4 linked regions of the Homo sapiens genome follow. The protein of the gene in region 2 interacts with the protein of the main gene of each other region in a pairwise test. Each region holds a gene or a part of one and is shown on either strand. Other genes may lie near its edges. The genes, in order: KIAA1328, TSTD2, L3MBTL3 and ZNF438.

Region 1 (7,053 bases), on a different chromosome or scaffold from region 2:
AATCTGGGTTAATGGTTTTGAGAAGGGAAAAAAGACACTAGGAAAGAGGTGTGAGCAGGAGAGGGCTCAGAGGTCTTTTTGGTCTTTTGTTTCCTGTACATCTTTTCTGTACAATAAAGCTCAGACTTGCTCCATTCTTTTCCAAAGTCGTTCCTTTAAGGATGCCAGGAAAGATTAAGCCAAAAGCCTCTCCAGGAACAACTGGGAAACAAATAAATTTGCTTCACTCAACATTTAACATAGTTACTTATAATTGATTTCTTTAAAGTCTACCACATATAACAGGAAGTATTATTGACACTTAAAAGACTGTTAGGCAAAAAATGCTTTAGACTTGTGAGGTTTTGCTTTAGTCACAATATGGGGAATTGTCCATGACCTCTCCTCCACCCTCCCCATGTTTCCAGTCAATTGAGGATTAACTGTAGTTGTTAGGGTTTATTTTTCCAGGAGAGATTTATGTTCAATATCTTGCCCTCTTTACTCACTTGGAACATTATTTTAGTCTATGACCATACTTACTGCTGACTAATTCTTAACAGTTATTGCTTGCAAAAAGAGGGACAAGTTGGATACAGTTTTTCATTCCAGTATTCTAAGAAAAACACAGACACAATTCACTAATCTAGTAAATGTGTTACCTGTGGCCTTGCAGGCACACTTCAGTGTGTAAACATTTAACTTTTGCTCAGCATTGTAGGAAATCATCTGAAATTCATTGGCTAGCAACTACCTTCCCCTACCAGTTTCTCATTTTGCCACTACAGTTGTTAAACTTACCTCTTTGGGGTCTACATGTATCTTTCTTTTGACATGACCACTGGGCATCATCTTTCATATGCGAATGAAACCCAACTGTCTTCCTCTCCTTCCTATTCTCTCCACTGTTTGGGGGGTCTTGGTGCTTTTTAATAGATGATGATGTTCCAAGCAGCCAGCCATCACAGTTTGACTTCAATAAACTGAAAGAACAACGATGAATGAACTGTTGAAGGCACAGAAGGGAACACAGAGCACATAGATATTTAAATTCAGTATGGGTTGAAATGCAATTCATTAAGAACTCTCTTTATCTTACCTTTTATTGAGGTATAATTTAAATAATTTACTCAACGTCTATTTTGTGTCCTGTCACAACAATTTTGGAAAAGAAATGGCCTTTATTCTCAAAAAGCTTACACTGGGAGTTGGGGAAATAAGATTCAAACTGATGAAACAGCTAATAAAGTCACAGAATATGACTAAGAACCAGGCTATCTATAGAAATAAAAAGTATGCTAAAACAGGACTTGCATATCTAAGATGTTTTCCAAGTACTAAAAATGAACACTAGGGATTAAAATATCACCAATGTGCCTCACACAAACGCGTTTGTGTTTCTAATTTTCAATTGTTATTAGTATTTATTATGTACCCAGAGTACGTAAGGAGTAGTGTAACAGTGCACGTAGAAGAACTAGACTCCATACTTACATAGTTTCATTAAAAGGTCAACAAGACAAATATAGAATAAAAGGCATTTTAATGAAAATGAACACATGTACATATTTTCTTCTCTAATAAACCGTGTTCCCACCATTAGCATATTTCCTCTTATAATATTTTCTTATTTTAGGGAAAAATATTCTAATGATGTGTTATCTCTCACTATTCCACTCTTCCCTCTTCGTGTTTGTTCACAACAAACTCATGACACTTTGGTTTTGTCTTCCCCATGCCCATAAACAATGTGAAAATTAAAGAAAAAGACATGGAAATGCATAGAGGCAGCTACTCAAAAAACAAGATTCTAAAATTAAAACGTTTAAACTCCCCAGAAGCAAAGGGAATCTCTAGACAAGAACAAGCTGAATGGAGTGTTGCCAGGTCTATCACTTACTCCAGGTGGCCTTTGACCAGGATTCAAATCACATAATCTTCTATAAATGTCTCTGGTTTATATCGATCAGAATTTTTAGCAGTGTTTGCTCATATCATAATTTATTAACAAAAACCAAGAAAGTAAATGGCTTTATGTTCAGAATTATATAAAGAAAATAAAATCATTAGTTATATGGCTTTATAAAGTAGGCACAAGAAAATGTATAAAAGTGATACTCTTCTTTTTTTTTTAAATCAGAACACAGAGACCATTTTCCTCTCAGACCCACCAGAAGATGTATAACTTAGGGTTATACAAATTGCACTCACGGAACAGGGAAATACGGAAAATAAAAGTACCTTATTGTGAATGTTATATAAATTTACGTCAACCCAGAGGCCCCAAACCCAGGCAAATCCAGTGACTACATCTCTGCTTGTTCTGTAGAAAAATGAATGTGACCCCAACCATTGGCTTCCCCAAATTTGATTCATTCTCAGCTCAGCCAGACTCCCAATACTGACTGCCTTCTGCTTCTTTACAGCATTTTCACAGAAGCTTTTCTGTACCTTTATTCAAAATTCCACCTTGGTAATCCTCCATCACAACTGGAAACTTGGCTTCTAATTTCCCTAAAATAAAGATGACTATATGAAAAATTTCTTCCTTCATTTGTATTTATTTCCATATTCACCCATCTACTATTCCTCTCTTCATGTCTCAAAAAATTTTACCTTTTATTTGCACTCTTGATACCATCTTGACCCATCCCCTCTGTGACTATGGCCTGTCAATCATCTCTTTTTCTTATAACTCACAAACTCCTCCTCTAAACTGGATTTTTTCCTAGGGCTACAAACAAGAGCAGATCCTCCATTAATACCCAGTGTCAGTGAGCGTGTGGGGACAAGAGCACTTTAATACCTATTGCAGGAACCACAAATGGGTATCACCTTTTTGTGAGTGACTTGTCAACACAAAATGAAAATGCATCCCTCTTTCAACAGTTCTACTTTTATCCCACACCTGAGGCCAGAAATTTGAGATCGGACTGGGCATCACAGCAAGACCCCATCACTAAAGAAAAAAAATTGTTTTAAATTAGCCAGGCATGGTGGCATGTGCCTATAGTTCCAGCTACTTGGGAAGCTGAGGCAGCAGGATAGCTTGAGCCCAGGAGTTTGGGCTTATAGTGAGATATGACCATGCCACTGCACTCCAGCCTGGGAGACAGTGAGACTCTGTTTCCAAAAAAAAAGAAAGAAAGAAAGAAAGAAAAAAAAAGGAATTTCTCCTGCAGAATTACATGAACAACAGCATGAGAATATTTGTTTAAGGATAATCACTGGAGAATTATTTGTAATAGTGAAAAACTGAAAGCAAATATCATTCTATAAGAGAATGAATAAATTATGGTACATATTAATTATAAAGAACACTATTCAGCCATTAAAAAGAATGAGGTAATTCTTTTTTTTTTTTTTTTTTTTTTTGGAGAGGAGTCTCACTCTGTTGCCCGGGCTGGAGTGCAGTGGCGCAGTCTTTGCTCACCACAACCTCCACCTTCCAGGTCAAGTGATTCTCCTGCCTCAGCCTCCCGAGTGCTGGGACTACAGGCACACACCACCATGTCCGGCTAATTTTTGTATTTTTAGTAGAGATGGGGTTTCACTATGTTGGCCAGGCTGGTCTTGAACTCCTGACCTCGTGATCTGCCCACTCGGCCTCCCAAAGTGCTGGGATTACAGGTGTGAGCCACCACACTTGGCTAGGATGAGGTAATTCTTTACACTGATGAGAAGAAACTTCATGACATGCTATTAAAATAAAAGCAATTTGCAATTATAGAGTATATAATGTGATCTCATTTTTATAAAAATAAAAATATACAAAAATATTTTTAAAGTTCTGGATGGATAAATGTCAAACTAGAAGGGAGTAGAAGAAATAGAGGGAAGAGTTTTATATTTTAATTTATATAACTCTGAATGTTTTAATTTCTTCCAATAGGCATGCATTTTATAATTTAAAAACAAACAAAAAACTCTCACCATGTCCCTTCCATTACCATCTCCTCTCTCCTTGTCTGCTGAACGTCTAGAAAACAATAATTTATTCTAACAGACATACCGACTAGAACTTGTTTTTAAAGAACAAATCAAAAGGCCTTTCTTCTTTGAACAGTCTTGCTTGTTACTAGATCACCCTACAGAAATTCAAGAAATTCAAGAAAACATTTTTTCTTGAAATGTTTTCTCCCTTGGTCTTCATAACACATTATCCTGACTGGTTTTCTGGTTTTAGGAGACTTCTTCCTTCCCCTTAGATGCAGACATTGCAAAAGTCTGTCCCTGTCCTCTTCCCTCTTAGTACTTTCTTGGTGATCCTTGCCACACCTCTATATCTGCAAGTACGATTTCTAAACAGATTCTTCTAGTTCACAGTGCTTGCCAAAACTGCTGACCTGATCAAGTATCTGATGAAAAGCTGTAAAGCGATGTCTATTCCTGCCTCCCAAACCAACTCTTGCTAAAGCAATCCAGTATCTTTATCTTGAAACTACTTCCTCCTTCTGTTTCCATTCTCACTTAATGATATCACCATCCTCCCAGTCACTCATAAGAAATCTCAGTTGTCTCAACTTCTGCTCTCCTTATTCCTTTTTAATAAATTTCCTAATCAATCATTCACTTATATATTCATCAGATATTGACTGAAGAACACACTTTATGGGCCTGATATGTACTGTGAGACTGGGCTGGGCAAAATGGAAAACAAACATTTACAGAGGACTTATTTTATGCTAGGTGCTGGGTATACAAACATGAGAAAGCCCTCGTTCCCATTCTTTTTTTTTTTTTTTTTTTTTTTTTTGAGGCGGAGTTTCTCTCTTGTCACCTAGGCTGGAGTGCAATGGCACAATCTCGGCTCACCACAACCTCTGCCTCCCGGGTTCAAGCGGTTCTCCTGCCTCAGCCTCCCGAGTAGCTGGGATTACAGGCATGCAATCCCATGCCTGTAATTTTGTTACATGCCCGGCTAACTTTGTATTTTTTAGTAGAGATGGGGTTTCTCCATGTTGGTGAGGCTGGTCTCGAACTCCCGACCTCAGGTGATCTGCCCGCCTTGGCCTCCCAAAGTCCTGGGATTACAGGTGTGAGCCACCGAGCCCGGCCCAGCCCTGGTTCCTATTCTTAAAGAGATTTTAGTGGGGGAGACAGACGTGGAAACAGAATTTTTAATACCATATGCCAAATGCAGTAATTCAGGAATATACTGGATGTTATGAGAGTGCAAGGGCAAGGCACCTAACTTTATTTGCATAACAGAAGAGAGATTCCTGAAATACTCAAACTTAACCTTGAAAGATAAGGAAAAATGTAAGAATGTTCTAGGTAAAATAAAAAAGTATTAGCAAATATACCAACAAATGAAACTTCAGTTCATATTTTGGGAAAGTTAAATAGCTAGGTATTGTTACAGCATTAAACTTTGGGTGTGTGGTAGGGAGGAACGGAGATGAAGCAGGTAAGACAGGGCAGGTCAGATCATGAAAGGTTGCGTTTTCCATGCTGAGGGGCTTGAACTCTATCTTGTGGCCAAGGTGGAGTCACTGAAAGGCTCTCAGGAGAAAAATGATATGATCCAACCAGAATTTATGAAAAATTACTCTGGCACCATTTAGAGAATGGGCTTCAAGAAACTGGATGAGTTGGAAGGCTGCTGAAACAGCTCTGGTGAGAGATGAAGGTTTGCAATAGAGAAGCGGTAGTAGGAACGGAAAGACATAGTTTAAGAAATATTTAGGATTTAAAAAGGGTAGAACTTGATGTAAGAGAGAGGGAGAGAAAAGTCAAGAATGACTGCCAGAATTTTGGGTTGATAAGCAATACAGAGGAGGATTGGGGAAGGGTGGGAAAAATTAACTGCAGCTTGAGATGCTTATGGAACATCTGAGAAGATATTTCAAGAAAGTAATTTGATCAGTAACTCCATGGCTTTTTGCTATTGGCTAAGTGAGTTTAGAGGTGGTAGAGTTGAGGGAGGCAGAGTTGAGAAAGAATATGCTTCAATTTCAATTTCCTTGGTGTAGGAGGAGATACAGTCATTCTTGTGAGTGAGTAAAGCAGGTATTGAGAAGAGAGGTGAAGGTTTGGAGTATGTATTGAGGGAATTCGAAATAGAAATGAAAAGAAAAAGATTTTCCTGAAATGTTGAGGCCCTAACAGAAATAGAAATCATCCATTTGTAGCAGGGCTCAAGTGCAGAGATTAAAAAGCAGAGAAAGCAGTGTGAGAGCTCAATCTAGGGTTAGGATTTTTACTGGGACAATGCAGCAGACTGGGGGTCAAGGGAAATAAATATATTAATGTAGTATAGGTCAACCATTCGGTCCAGGAAGAAAGTGAGGCAACAGGGACTGAAAAGACTGGCAGAAAAATGAGGGGAAATAAATAATTTAGATATCCCTTTAAGGTAAAGCGAAAATAAAACAGCAACAACACCAGAAATATAAAAACCCTTGGTATGGTGTATGTGATAAACATGAGAATATAAGCTGTAAAGAAAGAGGCTGGGATGGCAGAGTCAATGATTTTTCTGATGAAACCATGGTGGGTGATAGCAAGCTCTGGGTGTCACCATGGATGATGCTGGAGTGAATTGAGGAACGCAGAAATTCTTTAGCTATGGCAATGGATACATCAACCATATGGATATTGGGATCTCACAGAATGATGGTAGGAGTTATGGGGGAGAAAGTGACTTTAAGTGGGACGTCAAGGTCCTAGTGAGATAATGATGGAAAACAAAGGATGGAAAAGGATGGACTGCTGCAGTAAAACTAGACATATATTTAGATTCACATAAATAAAGAGATATGCAAGAAAAATGCTGGCACTCCTCTCTCTGTTGTTTATCAAATGTGACAGAAAGAATGGCCTCTAATAGAAGTGGTGCTCTCAGAAAAGATGCTGATTTTAGGCAGTGATTCACAGCTTGGCAATACATTTAAATAATCTGGGGAATTTTTAATAAGAGCGATGGACTGAGTCTCACCCACTTGTCGAAACTGAATTAATCAGTCTAGGGTGGGACCTGGATATTATTTGCTTCCCTCTCTCACTCTCCTCTCCTTTTAAAAAAGTTCTATAGGTGATTCTAATGTTCAGATAGGATTGAAAATTACTGAG
Region 2 (2,842 bases):
CAGAAACAGAGAAATCGGGAACTTCAGTTCTGGCCGCTGCCACCGTGGCAGCCGTCTACACTTCACAGCGGGAGGGGAGGAGTCACGTTGTCTACCACTTACCTGAGACATTCTGATTTGGATGATGCTAGAGCACAGAAAATAGGTGAGCTGCATGGGATCCCAAAGCTGCTGAGGGATAGAGCCTGAGCCTGGTGGCCACAGCATATGCCCTTTCTGTTCCATGCAGCTGGGGCTGTTAGTAGTCATTGCCCTTGTCAGCAGACCTTCTACCCTGGTGGCAAACACATGAAAGCTGTGGCCCTGGGAGTGGCCTCCTAAAACAAGCCACTTAGGTCATCTGCCATCTACCCTTAACCTCTGTCTCTCGCCTGAGGGGAATCTGCAAGCTGTGCATTGGGCTTACCTCCTGCTTTTGTAGAAATAACCATCCTTTGGTATACATGGAGGATAGTTCCAGAACGCCTGAGTATACAAAAACCCAATGCATACTCAAGTCCCACAGTGGGCCCTACAGAACCCACGTATGTGATAAATCAGCCCTCCATGTACGCAGGTTTCGCCCCCTGCCAATACTGTATTTTCAACCTGTATGGTTGAAAAAAATCCATATATAAGTGCAGCCATGCAGTTCAAACCCATATTGTTCAAGGGTCAACTGTATAGTTTATTGAACAGCCACACCCATTCCTTTACACATGATCTATGGCAGAGTTGAATAGTTGCAACAGACACTATGTGGCCTGCAAAATCGGAAATTTTTACTGTCTGGCCTTTTACAGAAAAGTTTGCCAGCCCCTGATCTAGACCAGCAGCTCATCTGATAGAGGCAGAGGTGGCCTTAAAGATGTGGCCTTCTTCATTTTCTGTTGGTTTGGTTTCGTTTCTATGAGAGATTTCCTCTGATAGCTCTGCTTTCCCCAGCACTTACTCTCTGAGCTTTTAAATGTTCTCTCTGGGAGCTTCATATAAGCTCGGTGACATTTGAGCCACAGTTTTTAGATCAGCACCTGGAATACATGACACATTCTTACTGAGGTCATCCAGCACTGCCATGGTGGCTGCCCAGTCTTCTGGCCAGTGTGCCAGGCACATGTCCCTGTCACACAGGTTCCAAGAAACACATACGCAGCCATGCATAGACCAACAGATTTAATATTATATTGCAGTTTTCAGCGATGCAGAATGCAGCTGCAATTGTGTTTTAAGGAGAAGCCAAATGGGGATGGTTGTCCCTGCAACATGGTGCCACTCCTGGGCCATGTGCAGCCTCAGTGGACACTCTTCCATAGCGCTGAGGCCCTGGCCCCGCCTCCAGTTACCCTGTACTGCCCACTGCCTTACAGTTCAGTGCGCAGGCCTTCACCTTTTCATCACCAGCCTCTCTGCTCAGTGCTCTGGAGTTCTTGACCTTGTCCTTTATCATGAGATTTGCTGAAATCACTAATGAAAATAACTCCCAAAAGCAACAAACAAAAATATTAGTTTAACTGGCACTGTGGTATATTAAAAGGCACAAGGGCATTGTGGCTTAACACTTTTGCTGGATCCCAAGAGACGCACATGATGTTAAAAAGAGATCTGGCAGCAGTACTAATACTACATTTCAGTGTAATCATCTTGGGGTGGTTTGGCCAGGATTTCCCAATTCCTTGATATCTGGAGTTTCTTCACCATTGTCCGGCATCCTGCGGAGGCTTAATATACAGGCGTAAGGTCAGCAGCAATTTGTCTAATAAGTGATGAGATCAGTAGCTGAAGTCTCTAAGCTGGGCCATTACTAAATACCATAGCCATGTTGATCTGGAAATTTATCCCTCTAGTGTCTTACCTCACATAAGCCATTTGCCCACTGTGCAATATAGAAAGGTGTTTTCAAAAGTATTTGGCCGTAGATTTTCACATCCATCATAAGGTTGGCATTCAATAAGGAAAAAGTTCTAACTCCAGTATTAAATTGTACATAAATCCCAAATGTTCTTAAAGAACACTCAGGGACATGTTTGTTGCCTGGGATTGGTAATGAAAGGTTGGTTTTTGAAACTTGAAATTTCACCATTGGTTTTTTTCCTATCATTTCTGCATATCCAGCAAAAGGAATCTCATGTTGACTCCTGGCAGAGTTCAGTGGCTTCAGTCTGTCTATCTGTTCTGAGGGGAAAATTGTGTTCTGGATCCAGTAATCAATTTGGCAACTTTAATCGAGGTTTTCAAAATTCCAAGGAGGGTTAATAAAGAATGATAATCAGTTTTATTTGCTAATAGCTAAGACAAATTTGTAATAAAGTGTTTTATAATACTTCAAAAGCATGTGGAAGAGTGTGCCGTTTCTGTGTCACACATTTTAAATGCACTTGAAACACCACACAGCAAGGCCATTGAAACTGGGCTCCTGGGGCTAAGTCGCTGCTGCTGGAACATCATCTTCAGTAAGATCTGCTGGTTTGGGGGCTTCTAGTTTTTAAATAATAACCAGATTCAACTTCTGTGACTAAAGAAAAACTTCACATTAACGGTATTTTATAAAATTTTCAACTACAACCACTAGTCAACCTAAAACCTTAGTGCATAAAGAACTGAACCACAAAAGGGTTTCATGCTGCCAGCATTTTGCCTTCTGGTTTCCCCTGCAGAGCACAGGTCATCAATAGAACACATCCAGTTCAAAGGCATGGACTCCACCGCCACACACTAGACACCACTCCGGCACTTGGGAATGATGGGCCCAGTCAGGTCCGCAAGCCTCCTCTTCCTCACTGGAAAGGAATGGAGATAAGATATAAGGCACTTTTCCCTGTAGACCAGGGGCCAGCACTGTTGCTGAGAAAGCACTGTGAAACCT
Region 3 (7,053 bases), on a different chromosome or scaffold from region 2:
GAAGGTCATCTCTGAAAAGACACAAAAGTTAAGCTGTGTGCCTAGGGCAGGTGGGGCTATTTCCAGTTTTTTGAGGAATTAACAGAACAAGGCTAGAATGCACCCCGGCACTGAGGAGAAGCACCTGGTTCATGGCCCTGGTTTGTCGGGACAGTATGACTGACTGTGCAGGCTGCAAGCTGAGGCAGGCAAGGGGATAGAGCCTTGTGGGGGACATCCCCCAGGGCCTCTATGGAAGTGACCCAAGGTCCACACAGAATAAGCAGAAAAGTACATCAAGACAAATACTAAAGGGAAGGGCTTCAGGGCCGGTTTCCTCCTGGAAATAAAATGCTGCCTGAGGAACAATGAAACAAACAAAAAAAAGGGCCAGGCACAGTGGCTCATGCCTGTAATCCCAGCACTTTGGGAGGTAGACACGGGCAGATGGCTTGAGGTCAGGAGTTCGAGACCAGCCTGGCCAATATGATGAAACCCCATCTCTACTAAAAATACAAAAATTAGCCAGGCTTGGTGGTGCACACCTGTAATCCCAGCTACTTGGGAGGCTGTGGCAGGGGAATCACGTGAACCCAGGAGGTGGAGGCTGCTGTGAGCCGAGATTGCGCCACCATACTTCAGCCTGGGTGACAGAGTGAGAATCCATCTCGAAAAGAGAGGGGAGGGGAGGGGAGGGAAGGGAAGGGGAGGGGACAGAAGGGAAGGGAAGGGAAGAGAAGACAGAAGAGATGAAAAGAGAAGGCAAAAAACAGGTTCCACGCCAGGAGCTCATGTTTTGAGAGGGAACATTAAAAACCTAAAACTGTGGGAAATGAACAAGAACAGAGGTTTTATAGAGAAGCAGAGGCAGGAAACACCTACTTGATGAGGGGAACAGAGAGAGAGAGAGAGAGAAAGAGAGAGGGAGAGAGGGATGGAGGGAGGGAGAGAGAGGGAGGGAGGGAGAGAGAGGGAGGGAGGGAGGGAGGGAGACAGGGAGAGGCGGAGACAGAGAGGGAGGGAGAGAGGGAGAGAAGGAGGGAGGGAGAAAGGGAGGGAGAGAGGGAGACAGGGAGGGAGAGAGGGAGAGAGGCAGGGAGAGAGGCAGGGAGAGAGGGAGGGAGAGAGGGAGGGAGAGAGGGAGGGAGGAAGACAGTTCTCATGCTTACCCTGAAACCACTTGAAAGTTAAGAATTTTCATTTTTTTCCTTATCCTCAAAATCTCAAATCTTTATTGACCAAACTGAATCAAAGAAAATCCTGAAGTAATACTTTAAGTGGCATGACTAAAATTTCCACCTGTGTGAACCATTTCCAATTTCATAAAGTTACAAGTAAGACTTTATTTTCATCAGCTCACCCTGCTTTAGTACAGCCGAATCCCCTCGTCTTTTCCTCCGTGCTCTCTGCGAACCCCTCAGGATTCTTACATCTTGTTTGTTCTCCTACAAAAAGAAAGGAAAATTATGACTTTAAAGTTCAAGAAATTGGCACCAGTGAATAGTTAGAGAGCTATCAGAAAGCACTTTTTCTGTTGTTCTTTTCTTCAGTTTTACTTTGTAACTTTTAAGGAAAGTAAGAATATAGTTCATCTGAAAACTGTTGCTTTTGGCCTGAGGTTATTACAAAATAAGACTGTATCCACGTGTTACCGGTTGGAAGGGCATGGACACCGCTCCCCGCTCCTTGAAACACTTTCTGCTCTCAGCTGCGTGACCGCTCTGCTCTGATTTTCCTCACGCCTTACTGGCTCCTCTTTGTCTCCTCTGCTGATGTCTCCTCCAATCCAGTTCCCTTCTCTACTCTTTCTAGTCCCTTTCCCTGGGTTTTCAAGGTCATCTTACATAGGCCAGATACTCCCAATCCACACCCTCAGCTTCCTCTTCCTTACTCCATGTGGCTGTAGACAAATGCCTACTTGGGATCTTCACCTGGATGGTTAATCAGCATTTCAAACCCATCATGGCCAAAGGACTCTGTGTTCTGCACTCCACCCTCATCTTCCCATTCTCAGTAAGAGACAGGATTATCCAGCCAATTGTTAAAGCCAAAGTTTTATCCCTGATTTTTCTCTTTTCCTCACACACTCTGACAACCCTACCTCTAACATTGATTCCCAAATCCACGGACTTCCATCATCTTCAGCCTTCTTACGTTGTCTACTGCAATAAACTCCTAACTGGTTTCCCTGATTCCACTCAGGGCTACAGTGGTCATTTAAAACATACATCATATCAAAGCATTCCCTTGTCTTAACTTTCCAGAGGCTTCCCCTGACACTCAGAATACAATGAACACCCTCGACTCTTGTTTACCATAAAACCCTACATGCCCTGGACCACAGGTACCTCTTCAACTTCATCTTACTCCACCCTCTCCTAAACCAGTGACCAGACTTCCTTTTATTTCCTCGAACAAAACATGCTGTGCAAGTTCTTACCTTAAGGACTTTCCTCTGGAAGTTCTACTACCCAGAAGACGCCTCACTCTCAACTTCACATAGCTGACTCCTCTTCATTCATCAGATCACACTGTTCATGCCATCGTCTTTGAGAGGGCTCCCTGACAACCCAACCTAAAGTAGTCAGCCAATCCTAATGCCCTATTTTAATTCTCAACGTAGCACTTATCACTAGGTGACATTTCTCCTGTTCATTTTGTTTGTAGATTAACTACCCCCTAAACAAGAATGCAGTGTCTCTGCCAGGAGAGACTCTATGTCATCTATTTGTCTTATGCATCCCTGTATTCTCAGCTCCTAGAACAGTGACTCCCAAGTAACAGTTGTACAATACCGATCTCAACGGAAACACTTCCAGATCTCAAAGTTCCCTTTTCCTATAAAACCATTAATAGATGCCTTTAGGAATATGATATTTATGTTTTAATTCACACATTTTGAATGGCTTTTCCCCAAATATACCTGATATTTGTGTGCCATTTTTTAACCACTCAGATAGTTTTTTTTGTTTTTTTTTTTTGAGACACAGTCTCGCTCTGTCGCCCAGGCTGGAGTGCAGTGGTGCAATCTCAGCTCATTGCAAGCTCCACCTCCCAGGTTCACGCCATTCTCCTGCCTCAGCCTCCCGAGTAGCTGGGACTACAGGAGCCTGCCACCACGCCTACCTAATTTTTTGTATTTTTAGTAAGGAAGGGGTTTCACCGGGTTAGCCAGGATGGTCTCGATCTCCCGACCTCGTGATCTGCCGGCCTCGGCCTCCCAAAGTGCTGGGATTACAGGCATGAGCCACCACGCCCAGCCCACTCAGATAGTTTTATGAGATCTGTCTGCAATTTAAAGAAATGAGATTGGCATTGTGTTGTCAAGAGGAATTTAAGATTCATCTACAAGACTGAAGGTTTTTAAATGTTCCCTTTCACCCTAGCACTAAATTTCAGGACATCCCACTTTTTCACCCTGAGAGAAGGATACTATTGTTTATGATTCCCATTTTGAGATCAGGACAGCAAGGCACACAGAGGCCATGTAACTTACTGACACTAACACAGATAGTCCTGGAACCCACATTTGAACTCAGTGGGCTCCAGAGCAGTGCTTGTGACTGTGATGCTACCCACTAAAGATGCATCCCTGTGCTCCTGGTGTCAGGCAGAGGCACTCACCATTTCATCATCTCTCTCTTCTCCATCCTCCTTGGTGTCAGCTTTCAGAGATAATTTTGGTTTTTTCTTCCGACTACACTTAGGATCTTCTTCCTCATTGTCTTCTTCTACGTCCCTTTCTTCCTTCTGATCTCTGTTGTGTTTATAAACCCAAAATAGTGACAAGAGACAATACCTATCAAACATCTACTTGTTGATTATCAATGCAACAATCATTAAAAAAAAATCACCCTGCAAAGGAAAAATCTTTAACTACCAGGAGAAATCTGTAGGCATGAGAATATCATATATCAGGAACACTGAAAACAACTATTACATATGACATCTGTCTGTCAGGGCAGAAAATGAAAATTACCTTATATATTAATTTCAAAAGGGGGCCAGCAATATGTATGAAATAGGTTCTAACAAGTTATTTGTCTGTCACATCTACCATCTATACTAATAAAAGAATTGATTATTTAGAGATATTTGTTTTCAGGGTCAAAGAAGGATCTAGCAGTTATTAAGAATGACAAATCCAATTGAAAAAAGGCTAAGTGTAACATTGTGAAACATCAGTTATCCAAGAAAAACAAGACAGTTCCAGTTGGGCGCAGTGGCTCACACCTTTAATCCCAGCATTTCGGGAGGCTGAGGCAGGCGGATCATGAGGTCAGGATATTGAGACCATCCTGGCTAACATGGTGAAACCCCGTCTCTACTAAAATAGAAAAAACTAGCTGGGTGTGGTGGCGTGCGCCTGTAGTCCCAGCTACTCGGGAGGCTGAGGCAGGTGAATTGCTTGAACCTGGGAATGTGGAGGTTGCAGTGAGCCAAGATCACGCCACTGCACTCCAGCCTGGCGACAGAACAAGACTTCATCTCAAAAAAAAAAAAAGAAAAAGAAAACATTTCCCAAGCCTGTGCTGATTAAAATACATGGGAAATGCCACTAAAATATAAATGTCCAGTCATTTCTTTGTAGTATACAATGATATGCAAGAAAAACACCTTCTTGGTGATAAGCTGAACTTTGTCAGACTGTCCCCAAATGGGAAGGTCACACACCACTACCAGTTACAGCTGATGCCTCTGTCTCATAATCCTCAGTCCACACCTTGAGATCATCAGTGACCCAACTCACTACACTCTTCCCTATGGCCATTTCCATTCAGCTGATTACGAATCAGTGGAAGCTTTATGCCGTAGGTGGAGTTTTAACCGAGTTACCTAAGAATTCCCAAAATATAAACAAAACTATGTTTCTATAAATGTCAGTGTCATCGAAATGTGTATATAGCCCAGAAAAAACTAAATACTCTTAGCTGAAGACAATCAAATGAATGGAAATGGAAGACTGAAGGCAGAGGCAGAGGCTGTTTTGCAGGCAGAATATTAGTAATACAACTCAGACCAGGCATGACAGACGTCACCAGGTCCCATATAGGGGTTAGGGCCCATGTGGCCCTAAAGGAAAAGTCTCTGGGAAAAAGGTATCAATAGGTGATCAATGTCCGAGAGCATAAAACTTCTATATTCTCAGGCACCATGACTTTGGAATCTAAAACTCAATTTATAGATGGAATGGGGCAAAAACCTACTTATCTTTGATGTGCCGAGCACAATTCTGGCTGCAATAGTTTCCTCCAGAAAGACACTCATCTACGTTGCCATACTGACAACAGTTCTCACAGAACTGAAGCCCTTCTACTTTCACTGGATCCTTCAACCTGAAAGGCATCCCAGTCTTCTCTGAAAAGACTAGAAGATGAAAAGAAGAAATGCAAATTACAACCATGACAGAAGACATTCTAAAATACAATCAAACTTTTTCTTCTAATAATTTTGTTAGCAACACAATAAAGAATAGTGTTTGCTGAATGAATGAATGATCAAATGATAGTGTTTTCGGGGGGTATGGGCTCTGTAAAAATCACTCAAGTCATTCAAATAATGAAAAAATATTCTGCAGAAAGGATAAAAGCTTGCCCAAGGCTTTTTCTACAGAGTTCAAAGTAAAATGAAGAAAATTTCACTAGTCACTAAATTCAGAAGACGCATATATCGATCTATAGAAACTTCTTCTATATTTGTATCTTTCAGAAAATTTCAGAGGATCTTCTTTTATTTCACATTTATAATCTTTTGATGAATGATTTTGTTTTACTTAATTGGCTAAATCAACATCTCTTCTATTACGCTTTCAATGTAGTACATTTCCTGACTCATAGCTATCCAAATTGTGTAGAAACTCGCATTTCCTTTTGCCTGAATTGTTAGGCTAATCATTCATTCAGCCAGCAGTTATTAGGCACCAATTTATTCTAGACATTAATAATGACAGTAGAGACCTTGCCCAAGAGAGCTCACAGTCTAGAAGAAAAGAGAGGCAAGAAAACCAGTATTTATAATAAAATGTGATACATGCAATACTAGAGGCATAAACAAGGTCCAGAAGTAGTACAGAAGAAGTGATTCATTCAGCCTGGGGTAAGGTCAGAGAAGGATTTTCTGATAGAAAGCCTCAACAGGGTTTTGAAGGCCAAAGAGGAATTTACCAACTGGACAAAGAGAGAAATGGCATTTGAGCCAGAAAAAGCAGTATGAGTAAAGGCAAGAAAGCATGAAACCACATGATGTGTTGGGAAAATTACACGTAATTCTGTGCTGCTGGCACTGCCAGAACACAACATACAAAGAAGGAAACAGAGACTGAGGAGACAAGGCGAGCAGGTAGGTGCAGGCACCCAGATCTTTGTATGTTCTGCTAAAAAGGCAATGAGAAATCAGTGAAGTGTCAGATAAGCAATCTACGTTAAGTTCCTCTGGCTTCAAGGTGCAGGACCAATTGGAAGGGGGTAAAATTAGAAGTAGAGTGACATCTGCAATAGTTCAGATGAGAGTTGAGAAGAGCCTACATTAAGGCCATGGCAAAGATGATAGATAGAAAAGGCCAGATCTGAGACATATTAGGAAATAAAAATCAAGAGGTATAAGTAACAGGATATGGGGATGGGAAGAACAAATTCAGGATGACTCCTGTGTTTCTTGCTTGTCCACTGGGTGGATGGTGCTATTGTCAACTGAAATATGGGTTAGGGAAGAAAGAGCAGGTTTGTGGGGAGGGGAGAAAGAAATAGAAAATGAATTGCATTTCAGACATGTGGAGTTTGAGGTACCTGTGGGACATCCAGGTGGAGATGTCCAGTAGGCAGGTGGAAATACGGGCCTGGAGCTCGGGGGAGAGGTCGGGGCTGGAGATGTAGATTTAGGAGTCATCAGCATATAGGTGTTAGTTACAACCATCGGAGTAGATGAGAAAAAAAGTGGCAGGCTTTTGGCTAAATCACCTGTGTAGGCTACAACATGGATTTACTTAATTTCCAACTAACCTTGTGCTACTACAGATCTGGCATTAGGACAAAGAAGACAGTTTATAGTTATTTTAAAACATAAATGCTGGCTCCT
Region 4 (2,787 bases), on a different chromosome or scaffold from region 2:
GAACTGGGCTTGAAAAGTACAGTTCCATCTAAAATTGATCAGCTAGCGACAACCCTCTGAAGTTACTTGGGAGTGAGGGAAAGCAGTTGAGACCCCTACACATCTGGACTGAACTATCTAGTTCATTTTCCAGGTTGTAAATTTTCTGGTCCCAAAGACTACTTGAAAATAACTTTTTACCAAGCAAGTAGACTTTTTATTAGCTGAAGTACTAAATTTTTTAAAAAATTATTTTGATATGGAACACTACAGCTATAAGACTTGCCAACAACTAATCTTCAATGAAATGTGCATTTAAGAAAATAGCAAAATTACAAGAAACAAAAATCTGAGTCCTGAAAACATGGATTTTAAATTATTGTAGATGACAATCTTATTAAAATACTGCTCTATATCATATTCAAATAAACCAGAGAATTTAATAAATATCAGCATTTACCATCTAACTTGATACTATGGTTGAGATTAAAAGGGTTTTGCTGCCTGGACATTTTTGACATTTGTCAATCTATATAAGCAGAAAACATCTGAACAAAAGGAAGGACACATGCATGTTTTCACTGAGAGCTGTATTTGAAGAACAGCCTATATTCTGCTAAATTTCAATCTTCAAATTTTGATCTTTTTATTTATTCTGAAAGTCTAAGATATTAAGAATCAGTACGTATTTTAAAATAAGACTGCATATAGTTAGAAAAATATGCTTCGAGAGCTTATATTTTATTTCGTTAAGAAAATAAAACCATGTACAAAAATCATTTCTGTTCACTCACACCAATCCTGTTGTTTGATCTTTGTGACTAAGCACCACCATAAAGCACGAAGCTCTGAAGGAAGGTGGCGGCAGAGCTCTCTCCTTAACCCCAGGCTGCCTTGGGGTCTCATTTCTCAGCTTCACTGGAAAGTTCGATCACTCCCTGGTTGGAGACCGTATTTAAAATAGCCCACAGTTTGGAAGGGTCCTCACAGTTATGCTGGTGCTTCCAGTGGTGGAGGAGGTCCTCTTTCCGTCCCAGCATCTCTGCACAAAGCAGGCAGTTAAAGCCTGAATGGGACCACAAGAGAAACGTGTGGAGGCCAGGACACTCAGGGCCCTGGCAGGTTTCCCTTGGCTTGTTGGTTCCTGACTGGGGTCCTTCATTTTCCATGAGCATTTCCACGCCATTCTGATGAAGGTGGAGCTGCCTTTTCAGTCTTGGACATGCATGTGATTCCTCGGAGGAGGAATGAACCTTCTCCGGCTTCCCTCTCTCAGGATGCCTTTTCCAGTCGGGGCTAGCGTGCTGCACCAACTCTTCCTGAGTCCCCTTGCTTCCTGGGAAGGTCCCTTCTTGTAGCCTGCCCTCAATTTCCTCTCCATGAACATCAAGTAAATGAAATTTTATTTCCGCAAAAGACTGAGCAGTAATCTGACAACGACCACATTTGATTTGTAATTTGACTTCGTCTGCCTGGTTTAGAAGGAAGTCTTCTTCCAGGTTGGACTTGTTTTCCCTGAAAAGGCCAATAATAATGAAGATAAGATTTCATGGAAAAATGCAATTGGAATCTTTCCTCTCAGCTGTCAGCCTTCAGGGATCTAAAACATAACACTGACGAGAAAGACAAGGGCTGGGGTAAACAGAGAGCACCTGGGAAGACCTTCTGCAAGGACCGTGGTGAATACTAATTGTCACTCCTGCTTGTGGCCACACATTTCTCCAGCTACCAGGGTTCATTTAGTCAACAGTCCTCTTCACGCATCTGTCCCAGGCGAGCTAACTCGTCTTTGGTTACCACAGGGACAGGAGCAATCACGTGGAAGAGTCACGTAAGAGCGCGTGAAGGGCACGGGAACACCCTCGGTTCTGTTGAAGGTAACGGTCCCACCCTACCCACTGTGGCTCTCCCTAACCTTGAGCACCAATACCTTCTATTCAATTTTGGCTCACTCTGTCATGTTCAGTAAAAATAAAGGGTGCCTACCCTATTTCTTCCTTGCTTTTCTAGAGTTTCTCCTTTTTCTTAGACATTTCTGTCCCCTTTAAGACCTCTGTGCCTTTCACTAATGAACCATGAAACCTCACTTCTTCCTTCTTTTCCTAGAGTTAGATTTTGATTTTTAGGTACAATGTCCAAACTACATTTGGCAAGAGCGTCTGTTTTCATTTGGGGAAGAGGAGAAGATTTCATATTCAGAAAGGAGCCAGTGAGCACCCAGCTGAAGGTGCAGCCGGGACTTGTGGGGCTAGTCCTGAGAGTGTCAGGTTCATTTGTGCAGGGTTGGCCAGGGCCACTGCACCACCTGCACCTTGCCTGCTGTTGCTGCTGGGAAAACATGGAGAGGAGGTGGGCAGTCCCTGAAACCTGCCGCCATGAGAGCCACTGCGATGGGGCCAGGCTGAGTCACCTGCTGGCAGGGGAAAACAGCACACTAGGGCATGCAGGAGTGGGTAGAGAGGGGCCCTGAGGCAGAGCTGGGCCAGGGGTGGTGCCACACTTCATGGAGCCAGTGGGAGCTGGGGACAAGCACGAGCCCTGCCCTTTCCAAGTTGACGGTGTGGGAGCTTACCAGGCACAACTGCCTGCAGCTGCCCAAGCTGCAGCTGTGACCCAGGCACCCCTGTGCTCTTGGAAGCTGGGAGCAGGCAGGAGCGCTCCTGCCCTCCCAGGCATCACTGTAGCTACCCTGCTGTGGCTGCAGATCCAGGCATCTCTGCACTCTCAGGGGTCCAGGAAGGCCCCTTTCCCCCCACGGGCTCAAGAAGCACCTGCTCCTGCTGCCTGGCTTCTCCCTGCTGTCAGCAC

What was found.
Region 1: the proteins of TSTD2 (region 2) and KIAA1328 interact in binary tests that used the Homo sapiens proteins (3 or more experiments, as listed by UniProt).
Region 3: the proteins of TSTD2 (region 2) and L3MBTL3 interact in binary tests that used the Homo sapiens proteins (3 or more experiments, as listed by UniProt).
Region 4: the proteins of TSTD2 (region 2) and ZNF438 interact in binary tests that used the Homo sapiens proteins (3 or more experiments, as listed by UniProt).

The regions. Positions count from the first base shown.
Region 1 is NC_000018.10:37,154,109-37,161,161, reverse strand, and holds part of KIAA1328 (protein hinderin), read right to left. Parts: intron 986-7,053; coding exon of another isoform or gene 963-985; coding exon 781-962; intron 1-780. UniProt on the Homo sapiens protein: Competes with SMC1 for binding to SMC3. May affect the availability of SMC3 to engage in the formation of multimeric protein complexes.
Region 2 is NC_000009.12:97,599,548-97,602,389, reverse strand, and holds the end of TSTD2 (thiosulfate sulfurtransferase/rhodanese-like domain-containing protein 2), read left to right. Parts: 3' UTR 1-2,310; downstream 2,311-2,842. Other genes in the region: TMOD1 (tropomodulin-1), read right to left, coding at 2,692-2,756.
Region 3 is NC_000006.12:130,049,542-130,056,594, reverse strand, and holds part of L3MBTL3 (lethal(3)malignant brain tumor-like protein 3), read right to left. Parts: intron 6,945-7,053; coding exon of another isoform or gene 6,840-6,944; coding exon 6,765-6,839; intron 5,347-6,764; coding exon 5,187-5,346; intron 3,737-5,186; coding exon 3,604-3,736; intron 1,425-3,603; coding exon 1,340-1,424; intron 1-1,339. UniProt on the Homo sapiens protein: Is a negative regulator of Notch target genes expression, required for RBPJ-mediated transcriptional repression. It recruits KDM1A to Notch-responsive elements and promotes KDM1A-mediated H3K4me demethylation.
Region 4 is NC_000010.11:30,844,080-30,846,866, forward strand, and holds the end of ZNF438 (zinc finger protein 438), read right to left. Parts: intron 1,495-2,787; coding exon 882-1,494; 3' UTR 553-881; downstream 1-552. UniProt on the Homo sapiens protein: Isoform 1 acts as a transcriptional repressor.